2 linked regions of the Homo sapiens genome follow. The protein of the gene in region 1 interacts with the protein of each later gene in a biochemical or structural test. Each region holds a gene or a part of one and is shown on either strand. Other genes may lie near its edges.

Region 1 (5,136 bases):
ACTACCTAGGAAGTGCATAAACAACATCAGCTTCTCTCTTGTGTAAAACAGCCTTTCCTTTCCTCAATTGATCAAGGCTCTGCACATATGCCTGGACTGAAACTTCCCCTTCTCTGGCAATCTATCCCTCAGAGATCTAAAGCTGACAAAACTCTTTGAAGAGTACAAATCAGCCCCCAAACAGGAATGAAGCAAACACATACTTAAATGACTCAAATTCTAAAGCTGGAGAAGTAGAGACGGGAGTAAGAAACAAGAGAACCGAAAAATAAAGTGTATGATATCAGCATTTCTAAGCCACAACTAAATGCTACTGAGTTAAAGTACTTCATGTAATGATTATCTTTTAGGAAATCCGAGCTGTGTAAAGCATAACCCCTGAGGAACAATCACTACCTTCAAAACCTGGTATGTGGCTACTATCCAATCCTCTGGTTAACCTACTGAAAATGTCTCCTTATTTCAGGAAATGCAATCCAGGACTATTTTCTGGAGCTATCTCCATTCAGATACTTTAACATGTAGGAAGAGAAACAATGACCATCTCTTTGTAGTTGACTGCAATCAAACATTCTGATCCCTCTAAGAATGTAAAATTGATATATATGCAGAAATGTATTCCTAGTTTTGCCTGTTTAAATAGTCAAACATCTAATCACAAGGTATGTGCTCACGCAGCAGAATGACGAATGCTTGGAGAAAAATCCTTTAAAGCCTACCAACATATGAAAGGCCCAGGTCAACAGAGTAAATTATAGCAACAATAACAGTAATCAGAGCAAACATTTTATAGCACTTACTACATGCCAAGCCATGTGCCAAACACTTTTACATATTCATTTAACCCTCACAACTCTATGAGACAGGTACTGTTATTATCCCCATTTTACAGGTGAGGTAACAGAAGTATAGAAAGGTTAAGTAACATGACCAAGGCCACATGACTAATACATGGCAGAGCCAGGATTCTAAACTAGGCAGTCTAGCTGCAAAGTCCATGCTCCTTAACCATTGTGCTATCCTATTTCTCAAGGTATTTTTTTTTCTTTAAAAAATAATTTACATACAGAAGGAGCAGGATTGAAAACAAGGAAAAAAAGAATTTAGCATGGGGTTACTGAACCAGCAAAGCCATTTACAGCCTTTACAATAGTTGGATTAAAAAAGAGTTTGTTCGGGAACACACTAACAGCAAAAAGTGATGTCTACTGTGTATTAGTGACAACTGCAGAACAGGCTTGGAAGGGAACATGGGCGCTAATTAGGCTCACCTCTTTCCTCCCATCTAAACAACCTCACTGGTTTATGAATATTTTTAATGCCCTTTTCTCCTGCAGCCTCAACAGTATTACAAGTCAGTTGCATCTTCTGTGATTGTCTATATCTCTTCTTTCAATTATTCAGAGAAGCAGCTACAACTAAGAAGAATACGCTTCTTGTCAAGATGGCACATATGCACAGGCTACCGGCTGTCTCCTCCAGTATCCTGGAAAAACTACAAGAAAACATGGATTCCAGGAAACAGTAACTACAGCACAGAATATATGAGAAAATCCCACAGATAGAGGGCTGTTTTGAACTGTTTCCCATGACTGCAGAAAACAAAAGACTCCAGACAGCAAACAAAACAAAAAACACCCCAAGACACCAAACAAAACACAGTTAAAACCAGTGGGCCAGGGCTCAGCCCATGATGCTCTGCAGGGAAAGGTAGTTGCTGGTACCTGTAAGGGAATATCAGCTCAAAGGCCAAGACAGCTAGATACCTGAGAAGGTCTATCATCTGCCCCACAAAAGACAACAAACTGAATAACACATATATTTTAAGCAACTGTACTTTGCTTAAAAAAAGATTAGACAGACCAGGAACTTAAAACAAGCATGATAATACTTAAGGAGGGAAGGCATTAGTAAAATGATATAGAGTAAGAAATAATGCAAGAATCAAGTAGAAATATTATGCATAAAAATATGAGTTGAAATTAAAACACAGCAGATGGGTTATTATTAGAATGGATATAGCTGAAGACTGAAGTAGTAAGCTGGGAGATCAAAATGAGGTACCTCCCAGAAGGAAGCAGTGAAGGATAAAGAAAATTTATTTTTTGTATTTAAAAGAAAGTTAAGAGCAGACAGAAGTAGGAGTGATAGAATTGTAAAAAATAATGAGACATATTTTCCAGAATTTAAAAAAGATGAATAACCTCATATTAAAAGATCCCAGAGTTTTAGCAGAAAATATAGGTGAACAGCTTTCTTATTTTATTTTAAAATTTTTTTCCAGAGATGAGTTTCAGTTATGTTGTCCAGGCTAGAGTGCAGTGGCTATTCACAGATGCAATCACAGGACATGATAGCCTCAAACTCCTGGCCTCAAGCAATCCTCCTACCTCAGCCTCCTGAGTAGCTGAGATTACAAGTGTGCTCCACTGCACATGGCTGCTTTCTTATTTTAGAACAAAAACGAATTTCTTTAAAAAGACACAAAAACTAACCATTAAAGACTGATAGATTTAATTACATTAATTAGTTCTGTTTGCTGAAAATTGAAATAAATCTTAAACATAATGAAAAGACAAGTTACAAACAGATAGCCTATATCTGCATTACATACAGCCAACAAAGAATTAGCAGCAAGAGTGAAGTACTCTTAGAAATCAATAAGCAAGAGGCAAAAGAAAGAACAGGCATTTCACAAGAGAGGAAACAAATATGGCCAATAAACACAGGAAGAGATGCTGATCCTAATTGGTAATTTAAAAAATGTAAAACAAGACCATAATGAGATATTTTATACCCATTTGATGAGCAAAAATTAAGAAGTCTAATAATTCCAAGTATTAGTGAGGCAGTGAATCTATAGGATCTCATAAATTGCATGTAGAAGCATCAGTACAATCAATTTCAAAAGCAATACAGTATTAACTTGTAAAAATGAACATTGGTTCATATTACCCAGCAATTCTACTCTCAAGCATATCCACCCAAGAGATATTCTTGTTCATCTGAACCTGGAAATATGGATTAAAATGTTCATAAAAGCGCTGTTTGGAATTGAATAAAACTGGAAGAAACAAAAATGCCTATTAATAAATTATGGTCACAATATAGCAATAAGCAACAAGGGTGAATCCTAGTAACATAATAGTGAGTGAAAATAACCAGTCCCAGAAAATAATGAATAAAATACCATTTCTAAAAAATCAAAAACAATATAATAAACAATATATTATTCAGGTATTCATATATACATGATAAAGTAAGAATGGCAAAAGAACAATAAAGACATAACTCAATACAGTAGTTACCTTTGAAGGGAGGCAGGGTAATGGAACAGGGAAGTAGCATGTAGGTAGATTAAGTCATGGTAATGTTTTACTTAGTTCTTAAGCTGGGTGATAAAACAATGACATCAGTGTATCATGAACCAAGCATTATAATTAATTCAATTTTGTGCATTTGATCACTCTCTCTTACCCTCAAAAAGACAGAGAAGGTACATATAAACCTCTTATTTTTAGTCAAAAGTGCAAGTTCTGGGAGTCAATATGAACAGCTATATTGTTTGAACTTACTTCCACAAAATTTCCTGCATATACTTCTTCCAAAGTGACTTCTAGATCTACAATAATATCACTTCCTCTTGGAATATTTCTGTCTTGCTGACGAGGGGTTCCTCCAAACATGAAACCAAAATCCCCAAAGAAGCTAAAGATAAGTGCAAAATCATCAGGAAAAAAAAAAAAATCAAGACTCTATGTTTCACAATTAACTCATTTTCTTTACGTTGATAAACTATTGTTTCTATCAATGCATTGTGCAAAACTACAAGGTATTTTTTAATACAATGGAGTCAACTATCATACATAATTTTAAATTTATATACTATCAACCATGTTGTAACTATACGGTCCCTTACTACAAAAAAATCCACTTTTTAACAAAATATAGCCCATACATATAGTACAGTACATACACACACAGTATGCCAATGAATTCAATGTTGGACCCAACCAATGAAATAATAATCTTTCAATATTGGGAAAAATCTGAATATGGTGGACTTATTGAGAAAGAGTATAGTATACATAAACTTGTGTAATGCTAAATGTAATGGTTAATTTAAGAAATTTTTATCGGTAATTTTAACATATGTAGTGTTCTCTTTACATGCTTTTTAGAAGCTAACTTGTTGAAAGAAGCTACTGCTCTACACAAAAATCTTGAGTATGTAATTAAATAAGCTAAAAAAGCATCAGCCTTAGTAAAATCCTAGTGCTTAAGGAGAAGGAAGTTCTAGCCTCTATAAGACCCAAACTAATTTTTGTAAGTAACAAGAGTAACTTGAGATTAACAAAAAAGGTGACCTTCAATCCTACAGGTGGTTTAATCTAATGTTAATTTTTGGTGTTATTAAGAAGCCTTGTATATTAGCATAGCGAAGATGATAACTATATAACTCCCTCTCCCACCAACCAACTCAGGTGAATGAATTCCCTGAATCTTAAATAAAGGCAAGGGGAAAGAACAGGGTGGGGGCTGGGGAAGCTGTTTCTCTTTCTGGTATTCCCTAGGGATCACTTCAGCCAGCCAAATTGATCCTGGCGGGGGGAAAAGATGTCCTAATCATGTTACTCACACATCTTTACAGACCCTAAAAATCTACTCCCCCACCCCAGGCCCCTCAACCAAGCACTAAATGGTGGTAACTACTATATGCAACAGTGATTCTTACTTCTTTTGGGGAAGGGTTCACAGAACCCTTTGAGAATCTGAAGAAAACAATGAACTCTCCCCATAAAAATGCAGATTCGAACATCTTTTTGTTTATAATTTCAGACCTGAAACCCCAGATTAAAGTCTCTTAGTATATGTAATCATCAGGGAATGTGGAAATTCAAATGCTCAATAAAGAGAGGTTCAAAGAGTGAGGAAGAAAGTGTTTATTATTCCAACCACCCAGCACTCCCAGAAAGCAAGAGATAAAGGTCCTCTACCCTAATTCCTTCCCCTAATGCTGGTTATTATAATCACCCTCACTTGTTGATAGCACGAAAGAGAGGCAGCTCTGGGTATGGGAGCAGGAATTTTTCTATCTCTGCTAACAATAATTTTGCTCATTAAGTGGTTTGCAGA
Region 2 (3,500 bases), on another chromosome or scaffold:
CGGTAGTTCCTTTTGTGTGTGTGTGTGTGTGTGTGATTTTTAAATTTCAAATATAAACATATATATATATATATATATATATATATTTTTTTTTTTTTTTTTTTTTTTTTTTTTGAGAGGGAGTTTCACTCTTGTTGCCCAGGCTGGAGTGCAATGGCGCGATCTCGGCTCACTACAACCTCCACCTCCTGGGTTCAAGCAATTCTCCTGCCTCAGCTTCCTGAGTAGCTGGGATTACAGGCATGCGCCACCACACCCAGCTAATTTTGTATTTTTAGTAGAGACAGGGTTTCTCCATGTTGGTCAGGCTGGTCTCGAACACCTGACCTCAGGTGATCTGCCTGCCTCAGCCTCCCAAAGTGCTGGGATTACAGGCATGAGCCACCGCGCCCGGCCTATAAATATATTTTTAAATTTTCTTTTTTTGGTGGAAGTGCTTTTTTTTTTTTTCTTTTGACATGGAGTTTTGCTCTCGTTGCCCAGGCTGGAGTGCAACGGCATGATCTGGGCTCACCGCAACCTCTGCCTCACAGATTCAAGTGATTCTTGTGCCTCGGCCTCCCAAGTAGCTGGGATTACAGGCATGTGCCACCACACCCGGCTAATTTTTGTATTTTTAGTAGAGACGGGGTTTCGCCATGTTGGTCAGGCTGGTCTCAAACTCCTGACCTAAGGTGATCCACCTGCCTCAGCCTCCCAAAGTCAGCCACCGCGCCTGGCCTAAATTTTCAATCAATATGTGCCAAGTGATTATTATTTAAAAATATTAGCTTGAGAAGAGTTCTCAGACTCAATTTTATTGTCATGAGCCTCTTACAGTGAGGTCTCACAGACTTCCTTTTTCCTTCATGCCACTGACTCTGAGACCATCTGGCACTGTGACACCTCTGTTGGGTAATCAAGCCATAAATCAAAATCTTTAGTCTCCAATTCCTGTATCGCCTTTCTCAAAACGCAGCCTGAGTCTGAAAAATAATGTACCTGTAACCAAGGACTCCAACACCTATTTAATCATCTATCAAACCTGAAATAAAAACCCAATTTTGGCCGGGCACGGTGGCTCACGCCTGTAATCCCAGCACTTTGAGATGCTGAGAGGGGCAGATCACATGAGGCCAGGAGTTTGAGACCAGCCTGGCCAAGATGGTGAAACCCCGTCTCTACTAAAAATACAAAAGTTAGCCGGGTGTGGTGACACATGCCTGTAATCCCAGCTACTTGGGAGGCTCAGGCACGAGAATCACTTGAACCCTGGAGGCAAAGTTTACAGTGAGCCAAGATTGCACCACTGGACTCCAGCCTGGGTGGTGGAGTGAGGTTCTGTCTCAAAACAAAACAAAACAAAACAAAACAAAACAAAACAGAACAAATCAATTTCCAGGTGATTCTATTTCGGAAATTGGAAGAAATTAGGGACTTTTGATCAGTCCATGCATTTTTGTCATAGACTTCAATTCTTTTCCAGGAAATAGTTTTGGGTATTTTTTTTGTTATTTATTTATAATTTTAGTTTAATTATTATTATCTTTTTTTGAGACAGGGTCTGTCTCTCTTGCCCCTGCTGGAGTGCAGTGGCATGCTCATGGCTCACTGCAGCCTCAACCTCCTGGGCTCAAGTGATTATCCCACCTCAGCTTTCCTAGTAGCTGGGACTACAGGCATGCACCACTACAGCTGGTTAAACTTCTGTATCTTTTTGTAGAGACGGAAATTTCCCCATTTTACCCAGGCTGGCCTTGATATCTTAGGCTTAAGCGACCATCTTGCCTTGGCCTCCCAAAGTGCTGGGATTACAGGTGTGAGTCACTGCCTACAGCCTGGTTTGTTTTTTAATTTTGTTTTGTTGTTATTGATTGTTTTTATTTTAAGGAATTTAGTAGCTCTAGATGCAGGCTTATCTTCAGTTTTCCACAGCCCTTGCTCACTTTCTTTTCATGGGAATGGCCTGGGCCTACCGTAGAAAGCATACTTCACAGTATATGGCTAGCCCTCTATATGAAAAATAAAACGTCAGAAAGTGTGCAATCCACCTCTCTCCAGCCTTAAAGGTGCAAAAAGCCTCAGAGTCACTTCAAAAGTGTTCTGACTTTGGAGACATATTCCAAGGACTGGCTCAACTTAGGTTCTATGTTATGCAACTAGACATTCAGCTAACAATTTGGCAGTCATGGCGAGGAAACATACACATGAGGCTCAATTCAAGGGTAGTAACTTAGTACGAAATGCAGTTGGTTCAAATGATTCTGGCTGGGATGCCAAATATGTAATTGAGATGTTTATGTTACCAGTATTATTAGTTCCCTTTTTCCTCTGTTAAATAGCTATTTACACACACACACACACACACACACACACACACACACACGTATATACAACACACTAGGACACCAAGTGGGTATTTTTGCAACCCAAACTAAAAATCCATAAGCATATGCATGGCAAACCGAATAGTAGAGATAAGAAAGAGAAGTATTCTTACACAGGAGGCTCTCACCTCCTCAAAATTCCCAAGTTGACATTTAATGTCAATGATGTTCATGCCATTGAAATAAACATAAAACAGGCATCTTTCTAACCCTCTGAAAGGCTGCCGTAATAACAGTGCTTAACGTTTATGAAGCATCTGCTGCGTCAGGCACCTTGCAAATGTTTTCCATTCATTGTGTTACGTGAGTCTTCCGACAACCTTGTGGAATAGGCAATCTTAGGGTCTACATTTGACAAATGGGGAAACTGAGGTCTAGAGAGGTTAGGAAACTTGCCAAATGTGTTAGAGCAAGTAATTGGCTAAACTGGGATTATAACCCATTTTTCTCTGACCCTAGAGCCTTGGCTCTTGATTGCAACACTGTGTTGCTTCTTTAGACTAGACTGAGATTCATGGACCATTTTAAGTTTGTAACCACCTTTGAGAGTCTGAATGGAGGACGTGGTTTTGCCTGGTTTTACTTCCTCCTCTAGAGTGCGGGGTCCATATTCCTCTGATGATAAGGGCCAGGAGAGCCATCTAAACAAAGTACTGCTTAGATCACTCCAAAGCCGGGGCCACTCACACTGCACCCCAGGAAACTGAACCTCTGTCCTTTCCAGCCCAGACTTTCTTCCACGGAGTGACACTGATTAGTTTGTAGGCCAGGTGAGGCATGATTTCATAACCATGGAGTAATCTGACCAGGGTCATGCAGGGGAGCAGCAGGCCTGCGGTATATAAATTCTCAAATACACATCTTCCATTTATTTCCTTATTTCTTTCTTTAAAAAAAAAAAATTTGGCCTAGGCATGGTGAATCATGCCTGTAATCCCAGCACTTTGGGAGGCTGAAGCAGGAGGATCTCTTGAGCTCAGGAGTTTGAGACCAACCTGGGCAACACAGAGAGAACACGCCTCCACAAAAAAAATAACAAATGAAATAAAATTTTAATTTTTTAAGAGACAGGGTCTCACTGTATCACCCAGGCTATGTACAGTGACATAATCATAGCTCACAGTAACCTGGAAC

What was found. The genes of interacting proteins can lie anywhere in the genome.
Region 2: the proteins of DNAJB11 (region 1) and APOBEC1 form a complex in vitro, tested with the Homo sapiens proteins (one study listed by BioGRID).

The regions. Positions count from the first base shown.
Region 1 is NC_000003.12:186,576,240-186,581,375, reverse strand, and holds part of DNAJB11 (dnaJ homolog subfamily B member 11 isoform 1 precursor), read right to left. Parts: intron 3,709-5,136; coding exon 3,576-3,708; intron 3,392-3,575; exon of another isoform or gene 3,309-3,391; intron 6-3,308; coding exon 1-5. UniProt on the Homo sapiens protein: As a co-chaperone for HSPA5 it is required for proper folding, trafficking or degradation of proteins.
Region 2 is NC_000012.12:7,655,909-7,659,408, reverse strand, and holds part of APOBEC1 (C->U-editing enzyme APOBEC-1), read left to right. Parts: intron 1-3,500. UniProt on the Homo sapiens protein: Cytidine deaminase catalyzing the cytidine to uridine postranscriptional editing of a variety of mRNAs. Form complexes with cofactors that confer differential editing activity and selectivity.